Homo sapiens: one gene and its partner. The protein of the gene in region 1 interacts with the protein of each later gene in a pairwise test. Each region holds a gene or a part of one and is shown on either strand. Other genes may lie near its edges.

Region 1 (7,285 bases):
TAGTCAAGCAGAAATTATGGATTTGCTGATTTCATTGGAATCATAAAATATGTGGCCTTTTGTGTCTGGCTAGTTTCACTTAGCATAATGTTTTCAAGGTTCACCCATACCGTAGCATATATCAATACTTATTCCTTTTTATGGCTGAATAATATTCTCATTTGGCTGTACCACATTTTGTTTAACCATGCATCAGTTGATGGACATCTGCATTGTTTCTACCTTTTGGCTGTTGTGAATAGTGCTGCTATGAACATTGTCTACAAGTTTTCGTTTGAACACCTGTTTTCCATTCTTTTGGGTCTATATCCAGTAGTGGAATTGGCAGGTCCTATGGCAATTCCATGTTTTACTTATTGAGGAACTGCTTTTCCACAGTGGTGATGCCATTTTGTATTCCCACCTGCAGTGTGGGAGGATTCTAATTTCTCCACATCCCTGCCAACACTTGTTATAGGATGTATTTTTAGCCATATCTACCCAGCAAGGGTATTATATTCCATTGCTCAGATGCAGGAACTGATGTATGTTACAACAAACCTGCAGGGAAGGTATTGTCATCCCCATTTTACAGATGACAAAACAAAGAGGTTCAGAGAGGTTAAGTGACTTGCCCACTAGATCTACCACTAGATTTGAACCCAGGTCTCTCTGCTTCCCAGAACCATGACCCCTTCCATTATACCTCATGGCCTCTCCTTTGATATTTTCACCGCACGAGGAAGGGTGGAGAGAGACTTGAGGAGGGTGGTGGGTGGGGTGGGGCATGTTTCCCACCAGCCCTGCCCTGTCCGATCAGTGAGACCCGCCTGGTAGAGGTGCTGGAGGGTGTGTGCAGCAAGTCAGACTTCGAGTGCCACCGCCTGCTGGAGCTGAGTGAGGAGCTGGTGGAGAGCTGGTGGTTTCACAAGTGAGTGGCAAAGGGCCTTCCCTGGAAGTGGGTCACAGGTGAGGCCTGGTGATAAGGCCTGATTTGGCCGAGAAGCAGGGGGGTGCATGCTGGGGCCCATGTCCTGGTTGTGCTCCTTCCAAACCCAGGTCTGCTAAGAACTTGCCGGGGGACTTGCGCTCCACTTTGAGCCTCAGTTTACCCTTCTGCCAAATGGGGAAAGGGCATTGGTCAGATGGCCTTTTGGGTCTTATGTCCAAGCTGGGTTGAATCACAGATTCAGGCATGGGGGAATGGGAACAGCACTTATGACACTATCTCAGCACCTCCTCCCCACCTCCCTCCACCCTGCCCCTGCCTCAGGCAGCAGGAGGCCCCGGACCTCTTCCAGTGGCTGTGCTCAGATTCCCTGAAGCTCTGCTGCCCCGCAGGCACCTTCGGGCCCTCCTGCCTTCGTGAGTTTTTAAGTTGCTCTTGGGGATGGGAGGGGACCACCGAGTCCAGGGATCCAGTCCTGGCTCTGTCCCTAGTTCGCTGTGTGAACTCAGGCTACTCAGATAAACTTCTCTGGACCTCAGTTCTTGCCTGCCTGACAGGGCTGGGGAGATGGGCAAATCAGTGGGGAAAGGCTTGGAGAAAGCACAGGGGCTAGACTGAGTCATATGCAGTATAGTTATCATCATGTACTAAAGAAATGATAGACTTCCCAGCCCCTTCATTTCCCATGCCAGATCGGACTATGGTACCTTCCTGGGGAGGGGCGGGTGCTGACCTGGAGCCTCCATGATCGCCATCCATCCTCACACACAGTCCTGGCACAAGAGCTGAACTTACTACCAGCCTCTTTTAGAGCAGTCTTTCCTGAAGCTACAGATAAAGAGCTAGCTACAAAGATGGCAAATTCAGTCTTTGTAAAAGAAAATATTGGCTGGGCGCGGTGGCTCACACCTGTAATCCCAACACTTTGGGAGGCTGCGGTGGGTGGATCATGAGGTCAGGAGATCGAGACCATCGTGGCTATCATGGTGAAACACCGTCTCTACTAAAAAATACAAAAAATTAGCCGGGCATGGTGGCGGGCGCCTCTAGTCCCAGCTACTCTGGAGGCTGAGGCAGAAGAATGGCATGAACCCGGCAGGCGGAGCTTGCAGTGAGCCGAGATCATGCCACTGCACTCCAGCCTGGGCGACAGAGCGAGACTCTGTCTCAAAAAAAAAAAAGAAAATATTTGGTCCAGTGGCTCGTACCTGTAAACCCAGCACTTTGGGAGGCTGAGGCAGGAGGATCACTTGAGGCCAGGAGTTTGAGAGACCAGCCTGGGTAGTAGAGCAAGACCCTGTCTCTTAAAAAAAAAATAGTGGGGCATGGTAGTGCAGCCTGTTGTTCCCCTAGGCTGAGGTGGGAGGATTGCTTGAGCCCAGGAGTTCGAAGCTGCAGTGAGCTATGATCATGTCATTGCCTGGGAAACAGAGCGAGACCCTGTCACTAAAAATAAATAAATAAATAAATAAATAAATAAATAAATAAATAAATAAAAGGTCTGTAAAATCTAATTGTTCCACAAGAGGAAATTGGTTAAGTAAATGTCAGTTTTATGACAAAATATTATGTCATTAAAATTAATTTTCTTCTCCAAAAATGTTTACTGATATGCAGAGCAGAAAATATTATCTTGTTTTTTTTGTTTTTTTGTCTTTTTTATTGATCATTCTTGGGTGTTTCTCCCAGAGGGGGATTTGGCAGGGTCATAGGACAATAGTGGAGGGAAGGTCAGCAGATAAACAAGTGAACAAAGGTCTCTGGTTTTCCTAGGCAGAGGACCCTGCGGCCTTCCGCAGTGTTTGTGTCCCTGGGTACTTGAGATCAAGGAGTGGTGATGACTCTCAACCAGCATGCTGCCTTCAAGCATCTGTTTAACAAAGCACATCTTGCACCGCCCTTAATCCATTTAACCCTGAGTGGACACAGCACATGTTTCAGAGAGCACAGGGTTGGGGATAAGGTCATAGATCAACAGGATCCCAAGGCAGAAGAATTTTTCTTAGTACAGAACAAAATGAAAAGTCTCCCGTGTCTACTTCTTTCTACACAGACACAGCAACCATCCGATTTCTCAGTGTTTTCCCCACCTTTCCCCCTTTTCTATTCCACAAAACCGCCATTGTCATCCTGGCCCGTTCTCAATGAGCTGTTGGGTACACCTCCCAGACGGGGTGGTGGCCGGGCAGAGGGGCTCCTCACTTCCCAGTAGGGGCAGCCGGGCAGAGGCGCCCCTCACCTCCCGGACGGGGCGGCTGGCCGGGCGGGGGGCTGACCCCCTCACCTCCCTCCCGGACGGGCTGGCTGCCCGGCGGAGACACTTCTCACTTCCCAGACGGGGCGGCTGCCGGGCGGAGGGGCTCCTCACTTCTCAGACAGGGCGGCCGGGCAGAGACGCTCCTCACCTCCCAGACGGGGTCGCGGCCGGGCAGAGACGCTCCTCACTTCCTAGATGGGATGGCGGCCGGGCAGAGACGCTCCTCACTTTCCAGACTGGGCAGCCTGGCAGAGAGGCTCCTCATATCCCAGACGATGGGCCGCCAGGCAGAGACGCTCCTCACTTCCCAGACGGGGTGGTGGCCGGGCAGAGGCTGCAATCTCGGCACTTTGGGAGGCCAAGGCAGGCGGCTGGGAGGTGGAGGTTGTAGCGAGCCGAGATCACGCCACTGCACTCCAGCCTGGGCACCATTGAGCACTGAGTGAACGAGACTCCGTCTGCAATCCCGGCACCTCGGGAGGCCGAGGCTGGCGGATCACTCGCGTTTAGGAGCTGGAGACCGGCCCGGCCAACACAGCGAAACCCCGTCTCCACCAAAAAAATACGAAAACCAGTCAGGCGTGGTGGCGCGCGCCTGCAATCGCAGGCACTCGGCAGGTTGAGGCAGGAGAATCAGGCAGGGAGGTTGCAGTGAGCCGAGATGGCAGCAGTACAGTCCAGCTTCAGCTTGGCATCAGAGGGAGACCGTGTAAAGAGAGGGAGAGGGAGACCATGGGGAGAGGGAGAGGGAGGCCATGGGGAGAGGGAGAGGGAAAGGGGGAGGGGGAGGGGAGGGGGGGAGGGAGGGAAGGCAAGGGAGAGGGAGAGGGAGAGGGAGAAAATATTATCTTGTATATCAAGGTTGTATAGATGACCTCACCTGGTTTGGTGTCTTCCCACAGCCTGTCCTGGGGGAACAGAGAGGCCCTGCGGTGGCTACGGGCAGTGTGAAGGAGAAGGGACACGAGGGGGCAGCGGGCACTGTGACTGCCAAGCCGGCTACGGGGGTGAGGCCTGTGGCCAGTGTGGCCTTGGCTACTTTGAGGCAGAACGCAACGCCAGCCATCTGGTATGTTCGGGTAGGTAGCCAAAAGGTGTGGCACTGGGCAGGGGCAGATGGGGCACCTGCCTGCCCATCCTCATGCTGCCCCCATTCCACCCAGCTTGTTTTGGCCCCTGTGCCCGATGCTCAGGACCTGAGGAATCAAACTGTTTGCAATGCAAGAAGGGCTGGGCCCTGCATCACCTCAAGTGTGTAGGTAAGTGGGGCCCTAGCTAGGTCTGGGAAGATGGTCAGGGGCCTGGGCTTGGTCCTTTATTCTCTCAACACAAGCCTGGGCTAGACTAGCCTAGTCTCCACCTTCATGGAGATCTCAACCTGGCTGGGAAGGCAGAAAAGTAACCAGATACTTACAGTCCAGTACACAGGTACTGTGTAGTATAGTCCCTGTGTACAGTGAGAGATGCCTCTGATCTAGTTCAGTGGAAGTGGTGATGGGGAATCAGGAAAGGCTTCTTGGAGGAGGCGTTACTTTGGCCAAGTCCTAAAAATTGAGGAAGGGGCTGGGCGCGGTGGCTCACGCCTGTAATCCCAGCACTTTGGGAGGCCAAGGCGGGCAGATCATGAGATCAGGAGATCGAGACCATCCTGGCTAACATGGTGAAACCCTGTCTCAACTAAAAATACAAAAAATTAGCTGGGCGTGGTGGCGGGTGCCTGTAGTCCCAGCTACTCAGGAGGCTGAGGCAGGAGAAGGGCATGAACCTGGGAGGCGGAGCTTGCAGTGAGCCGAGATCGCACCACTGCACTCCAGTCTGGGCAACAGAGGGAGACTCCATCTCAAAAAAAAAAAAAAAAAAAAAAAAAAATGAGGAAGGGTTGGCTAGGAGAATGAGGACACTGAACTTGGGGTCAGGAAACCTGGGTTCAAGACTTGGTTTGGTCCCAGCCTAGCCACTTATATAGACTAAAGTAAAGGCTAAGCTGCTGTAACAAAAATCCCCAAAAGACTGTGGCTTAAAGAGTATAGAGGTTGGCTGGGTGTGGTAGCTCACTCACGCCTCTAATCCCAGCACTTTGAGAGGCTGAAGTGGGGTGGATCACCTGAGGTCAGGAGTTCGAGACCAGCCTGGCCAACATGGCAAAACCCTGTCTGTACTAAAAATACAAAAATTTAGCCAGGCATGGTGGCAGGTGCCTGTAATCCCAGCTACTCGGGAGGCAGAGGCAGGAGAGTCGCTTGAATCCAGGAGGCAGAGGTTGCAGTGAGCCAAGATCACACCATTGCACTCTAGCCTGGGTGACAAGAGCGAAACTCCATCTCAAAAAAAAAAAAAAGAATCTAGAGGGTAGAGGTTTATTTTTTTTTATCATATTACAGTCCCAAAGTGAGTAGTCCAGGCTGGCAGGGGAGCTCTGCTAGTCATAATCATTCCAGTACCCAGATTATTCCTGTAACTTACTGCACAATCATCCCCTTGGGCGTTGTCTGCATGGTTGAAGCTGAGTCCTGGGCATCTCTGTGTCCCACATGCCAGCACTCAGGAAGGGAGAAGGGAAAGAAAGTGCATTGAGGAGTCCAAGCATTGTTTTAAGACCAAGCTAACGGTGGAGCTCATCACTCCTGTTTACATCCTGTTGGCCAGAACTCAATCACAGGGACACACTTAGCTTCAAGACAGGTTGGCAAATGTGGTCTCTGGCTGGGCAGCCTGAAGTCCAGCTAGTCTGCTTCTGTGTTGGTAGACAGCTTGCAGTCTCTGCCATACCATTTAATCCCAGGCAAGACCATTCCCCAACGGCTCTGGCTTCAGCTTCCCTACTAAATAGGGATTGAAATTCTCACCCTGCTCACCTCTCTGCAGACATTGATGAGTGTGGCACAGAGGGAGCCAACTGTGGAGCTGACCAATTCTGCGTGAACACTGAGGGCTCCTATGAGTGCCGAGGTCAGTGTCTACTTCTGCAGAGGAGGGGACGTGAGGAGTGGAGGAAGAGCTGCTCCACACCTGTCCCTCCAAACCTTCCCCTTCTCAGGCTTCAGAGCACCCCCAGGCCTCCGCTTCTGGAGCGTGGCTCCCCTGGGCCTAGGTGCACATCTCACCCTCATCTTTCTCTCCTCTCTCCAGACTGTGCCAAGGCCTGCCTAGGCTGCATGGGGGCAGGGCCAGGTCGCTGTAAGAAGTGTAGCCCTGGCTATCAGCAGGTGGGCTCCAAGTGTCTCGGTGAGTCTCCTGCTGATGGGACACAGGCACCTGGGAGTGCCTCACCCAGCATGAATGGTGAAGAGGCTGGAATATGGGCAGGTGGGGGAAGGAAGGGTGGAATGTTGCCTGGGCAAGGGCAGAGGGGAGTGTTGAGAGATGGACAAGATGGAGTCAGGGTGCTGGGTGGGGGGCCCTAGCAGGACTCTGACCCCTCCCTCCCCTCAAGATGTGGATGAGTGTGAGACAGAGGTGTGTCCGGGAGAGAACAAGCAGTGTGAAAACACCGAGGGCGGTTATCGCTGCATCTGTGCCGAGGGCTACAAGCAGATGGAAGGCATCTGTGTGAAGGAGCAGATCCCAGGTGAGCCCTGGGGCGGGAGAGGGGAGGTCCTCATTCAAAGAGAAGGCAGGCAAGCCCCTTCCCCAGGTAGCAGTGGCAGCTCCAGGCCCTGCCCCATCCCTACTGCCACCCAGCCCCCTGGAGGCTGCACTGAGACCGGGCTCTACATCTGATCTCCAGGTTGGCTCTCAGCAGCCTTATACCTTCCAGGGTACAAAGGGAATCAGACCTGGCATCAAATCAGTCTGCCTCCTTAACCTGTTTCCTCATCTATCCAATGGGACCAGTGTTTGCCCTGGCCTGCTGAGAGCTGTCCTAGGCCGGGGGTGTGGTGAGATGCAGGGTAATCACAACGATGATGGCAGGGACCATTTCCCCAGCAATTACTGTGTCAGATGCTGTTCTAGGTGCATTCCCCATCTTAACTGATTTAACCCCTGAAACAACCCGACGCTGGAAGTTGGGTTCTCATCCCCACTCTACATATGTAAAAATGAAGATGCAGAGAGATGAAGCTACTTTCCCAGGGCTATATGGCAAGCAAGTCGCAAAG
Region 2 (5,255 bases), on another chromosome or scaffold:
TTTTCCAATTCAGCTTCCCCCAGCTGCACACTTTATCACTCCCCATCAGCTATCCTCCTAAGAGATGTATTATTGCAGTATATTTGGAGATTCCACAAAGGAGCATGGGCCCTGAAATCAATCACACTGCCTAATTTCAAACCTACCAGTAACTATGTGAGTGACCTCGGTTGAGCTACTCAAACTCATTAAGCCACAGTTTCTTCATTTGTAAAATAGGGAAGAGTCACATAACTCTTCATGTTACTAACGATGATTAAATCATATGGAAAGTGTTCAGCACAGTGCCTTGCCTGTTTCAAATCAGGCATTCAAAGACTGTAAACTTTATTATAATTATAGGACAACATGAAAAGCTTTAGAGCTAAAGAATAAAACTTTCTCACTTTACATGTTTTCCAAATAAACACCCATTGTGTGTGTGTGTGTGTGTGTGTGAATTTGAGACACATGGAACTTAGCAGGGAGTGTGCTTCAGAGGTAATAAATGCTCCCATCAACAACCACACTATTGTGTCTTCTTTGGGTTCTTCAGTATTTAAGTTTACTCTTTGTTTATATTGATGAGCTTTTTGACTTAATTTCAGAGCACTGTTTGCCAGAGTGGATTTTAATAGCACCAGCAATTTGTCACGGCTCTGATAGGTCCACAGAGCAGAGAGGAAAAGAAAGACATAAAATCAAGACCTTAGGTTTGAAACAACAGCAACAAAAAAATTGTTCAGGGCCATTAGGAATCATCCATTCAACATACTCCTTTTTCAGATAAGAAAACTGGAGGCCCAAAGGCATCATAGGAGTTTCCCAAAGCCATTCTACCAACTGTACACGAAGCTGTGACTAAAAGCCCGCGGAGAAGGAAAAGGAGCTTGGGAGCCAAGAAAGAAAAGAAAGGAGGTGGAAGGAAAGTCAAGATGTTATTTTGCAATTTCTCTGAAAGGAGTGAAGAGGGACGTTTGGGATTTCATAATTCATAAAGCTCCTTTAGCAAAAGCCCTTGGAAGTCTGAGAATCAGAGAATAAAGAACATTGGATTGGGAGTCCCATACCCTTTATCCATCACTCTTATCAGTATTGTAGCTATGAGGTTTGTGACAATCTCTTTAATAAGCATTTTTAAGAGTTCAGCTTTTTATTGAACGTGTTATAAAATAGGTTTACTCAAAAAAAAAAAAAAAAAGCCCATATTATCATCAGACTCCAGATTCTTCTTTCTTTGCTTCCACCTTCTTCTTCTCGGCCTAGGCCACAGTGACAGAAGGGCAGGACCTCCCGCAGGTACACCACCAGCTGCTGAGCAGGTCTTCCCACCCCGCCCCTCCACTGCAGAGGAGGCTCCCGAAGTTGACGATGGCCAGGGCCTTGGCAGACAAGCCAGGCCAAAAGCCGTCATCATTTACCCCAGCTGCTTTAGAAACGACATTGACCTTATCCTATGTGATGATCCCCTCAGCGTTATACAGAATGAGGGCTGAGTCAGTGCAGGCGAGCTCTGAGATGGAGTCCGTGGTGTGGACAAGTGCAAGGCTGGGCTGCCCGGAGTAGTGCTAGTGCTGGATGCAGTGAGGGCCTGACCCCAACGCAGCCTCAGCTCAGAAGGGCAGAGCATCTTGGCGGCAGCTGGGAAAAGGCTAAATAAGCATTTTTTAAATTTGTAAATTGAGTAATTGGAGGAGATAATCCTTAAGGTTGTTCCATTTTAAGACTTCACAGTTTTGTTCTTCTGCTGCGAAATGCCCTGTGGCAGTCTCTGCGCAGGATGTGACGGGTCCTGAGGCCTGGTTCCTGCCGTGCACATCAACGGGTAGGGTTTGGGTAGGTAGAGAAGGTGGAAAAGGGCATCAAGGACACAGTGGCCCAACTTGAGAGGACAAAAAAAATGATCAATGACCTGGAGAAAAAGTGTAGTGAGTCTGGCTAGAGAAAAAATAGCAACTAGTCATATTAGAAAGCTGGTTAGACCAGAGGCTGTGGAGGACTCCGAATGTGAAGCAAAGACACACATTTGGGAGACATCGAGGGATATTGACAAAGGGAGCTAACGGTGACATCAAAAGACATCATCTAGGAAAAGTGATTGAGAATCACTGGCCCAACTTTGGCAAGGCCAATATTGTGTAAAGTTGAGATTCTCATCAAAATCCATAATTCTAACATTTGGGAGGGGAGGAATTCATAAACACTGAGGCTGTGTCTGTTGCATAACACTGCATCAGAGAATAAAGGGCATGTTCAGATAACCGAATTTTAATATGGATTACTTGCATGGATTCCAACTTACTTTTCAATTTAGGCAAAACAATTTACATATGTGGACTCAGTCTGAGTTTCACATTTTCATTTGGTAAAACTTCACAGCAGCTGTTGGTCACTGAGAGCCAGTGCAACCCTACCCACTGGGCCTGCTCCTGTAATTAATGACACACGCGGACCAAGTAGGAATGGTCTTTGAAGATATTGCAAAAGGGTGACAGTCATAGGAGCTAGTCAGTCAAATGTGAGAAACTCATATGTGTTTGGGATCATTTTAACCGTTTAAAAATACAGAAAGATGTCTGTTTGATTGTTTTCCTAGCCAATTGGCTTGCTGGCTTTCAAATAATATGTATAAATCTGTGTGTTTTCTTCCAGGGTCTTTCTTCCCTGATTTCAAGCCCTCTGAAACAGTTTTTAAAATAGTATTTTGGCTCGGATATCTAAACAGCTGCATCAACCCCATCATATACCCATGCTCCAGCCAAGAGTTCAAAAAGGCCTTTCAGAATGTCTTGAGAATCCAGTGTCTCTGCAGAAAGCAGTCTTCCAAACATGCCCTGGGCTACACCCTGCACCCGCCCAGCCAGGCCGTGGAAGGGCAACACAAGGACATGGTGCGCATCCCCGTGGGATCAAGAGAGACCTTCTACAGGATCTCCAAGACGGATGGCGTTTGTGAATGGAAATTTTTCTCTTCCATGCCCCGTGGATCTGCCAGGATTACAGTGTCCAAAGACCAATCCTCCTGTACCACAGCCCGGGTGAGAAGTAAAAGCTTTTTGCAGGTCTGCTGCTGTGTAGGGCCCTCAACCCCCAGCCTTGACAAGAACCATCAAGTTCCAACCATTAAGGTCCACACCATCTCCCTCAGTGAGAACGGGGAGGAAGTCTAGGACAGGAAAGATGCAGAGGAAAGGGGAATAATCTTAGGTACCCACCCCACTTCCTTCTCGGAAGGCCAGCTCTTCTTGGAGGACAAGACAGGACCAATCAAAGAGGGGACCTGCTGGGAATGGGGTGGGTGGTAGACCCAACTCATCAGGCAGCGGGTAGGGCACAGGGAAGAGGGAGGGTGTCTCACAACCAACCAGTTCAGAATGATACGGAACAGCATTTCCCTGCAGCTAATGCTTTCTTGGTCACTCTGTGCCCACTTCAACGAAAACCACCATGGGAAACAGAATTTCATGCACAATCCAAAAGACTATAAATATAGGATTATGATTTCATCATGAATATTTTGAGCACACACTCTAAGTTTGGAGCTATTTCTTGATGGAAGTGAGGGGATTTTATTTTCAGGCTCAACCTACTGACAGCCACATTTGACATTTATGGGGAGAGGGCCTAGAGAGGAAGAGCATTAAGATGGTGGCCGAGATCCAGACACATTATTTTTAGAGCAAGTCCTGAAACTCCACCCTTTCTGATACATCCAATTTCTCAGCTTGAGGGAAACTTGGCAGTGAGGTTTACCTTTGACTGCACTTTGAATGGATGCTGCTCCTCATTTCCCAAAGATGAGAGTGAGGGGCACTCATGATGTCTTGGAATGTAGTGTTCTCTATCCTTGGGTCAGGAGAGGGTTGAAAGAACCAACCAGGGTGGTATGGCTTTTCCCAAGAGAAAACAATAGACCTGAGCATCATTCTTTCAATTTAACTACTAGAGAGAAAATCCATTAAACAGTTCCAAGATCAGATGATGATAGGCTTTCTCTCTAATATCTTTAAAGAGCAAGAGGTTGGTGTGGCTGTTAATTTCTTGCAAAGATAGAGGCTGTTCACTTACTGCACAGCCATTTCAACATGGCTTACAAAAGCCTTTCTTGACAAATCACTTACCTGTTCCAGAACTCTGTTATGAAAATCCAGAGCTTATAATATTTTGAAAGGCAAAAGATTGTCTCCCATTACTTCTTATCTGCTTCACTATTGCATAATGAATGAGCTTCACCTGTGGCATGTTGGAATGAGCCTTATGATCCAAGTACATTATTCCCGAACTTTGAAAAATACTAATGCTTAGCTTCAGACAATACTGATGGATCACCAAAGAACTGTCTAACGCAGGAGTTTGCAAACATTTTTTGATAGAAGGCCATTTGTTCTGGTAAAAGATCCAGTAGTCAACTCAACTTCATCTATTCCTACTTTTCTGCAAGAGCTTGGGGAACATGCTATATTTTGCTTTATGTATACCAAATTTTGGTAAACCATAATAACTCAGTACAGAACTTGTGTATCTCTTTTCTGAAATGCCTGGAACCAGAAGTGTTTCAGATTACAGATTTTTTCAAATTTTGAAATACTTGCATATACATAATCAAATATCTCTGGGATGGGACCCAAGTCTAAACACAAAATTCATTTATGTTTCATATACACCTCATATGCATAGCCTGAGGGTAATTTTATACAATATTTTTAATTGACTGTTTTTGACTGCAACCCATAGACATGAGGTCAGGTGTGGAATTCCCCACCTGTGGCGTCATGTCGGTGCTCAAACAATCTCGGATCTTAGAGCATTTCGGATTTCAGATTTTCGGATTAGGGCTGCTCAAGCTATAGATTACTAAGGATGAAGATGGTAACTATAAGTAAAAATTAAAATATGGCTGTCTTTTCACAATAAGGATTTAAAATAGAATTTAAGTTTTTGGAATAATTCTCGACAACAATCAGTGGTCTAAAACTAAAGACCATTTGCCTGGCCTCTTTCCTCTATTAGGGTAATTTCCTCTAACAAATTCAAAGCAGCTGTAACCTTCACAGCAAGAGTAGCGGCCTCAACATCTTTTTCTTCTTCTCTTGCAGCAAAATGATAATTTCCTTAAATTCTTCTTAAAACCAAATCTCTTTCCACATTGCAATGGAGGGTATGTTTGCATGTGGATTTGGGTTTTGTTATAGGTTGTATTTAGACCTGGAGTGTGACTGTTTTTTCAGCCTTTTTCTGAAGAGTGTCTTCTTACTGGCCAGATACATATTCAGCCT

What was found.
Region 2: the proteins of CRELD1 (region 1) and ADRA1A interact in binary tests that used the Homo sapiens proteins (3 or more experiments, as listed by UniProt).

Annotation. Positions count from the first base shown.
Region 1 is NC_000003.12:9,936,763-9,944,047, forward strand, and holds part of CRELD1 (protein disulfide isomerase CRELD1 isoform 2 precursor), read left to right. Parts: intron 1-799; coding exon 800-910; intron 911-1,252; coding exon 1,253-1,344; intron 1,345-4,087; coding exon 4,088-4,264; intron 4,265-4,348; coding exon 4,349-4,444; intron 4,445-6,050; coding exon 6,051-6,134; exon of another isoform or gene 6,135-6,135; intron 6,136-6,314; coding exon 6,315-6,410; intron 6,411-6,618; coding exon 6,619-6,753; intron 6,754-6,912; coding exon of another isoform or gene 6,913-6,989; exon of another isoform or gene 6,990-7,127; coding exon of another isoform or gene 7,128-7,285. UniProt on the Homo sapiens protein: Protein disulfide isomerase. Promotes the localization of acetylcholine receptors (AChRs) to the plasma membrane.
Region 2 is NC_000008.11:26,768,043-26,773,297, reverse strand, and holds the end of ADRA1A (alpha-1A adrenergic receptor), read left to right. Parts: intron 1-2,631; coding exon 2,632-3,149; 3' UTR 3,150-4,489; downstream 4,490-5,255. UniProt on the Homo sapiens protein: This alpha-adrenergic receptor mediates its action by association with G proteins that activate a phosphatidylinositol-calcium second messenger system. Its effect is mediated by G(q) and G(11) proteins.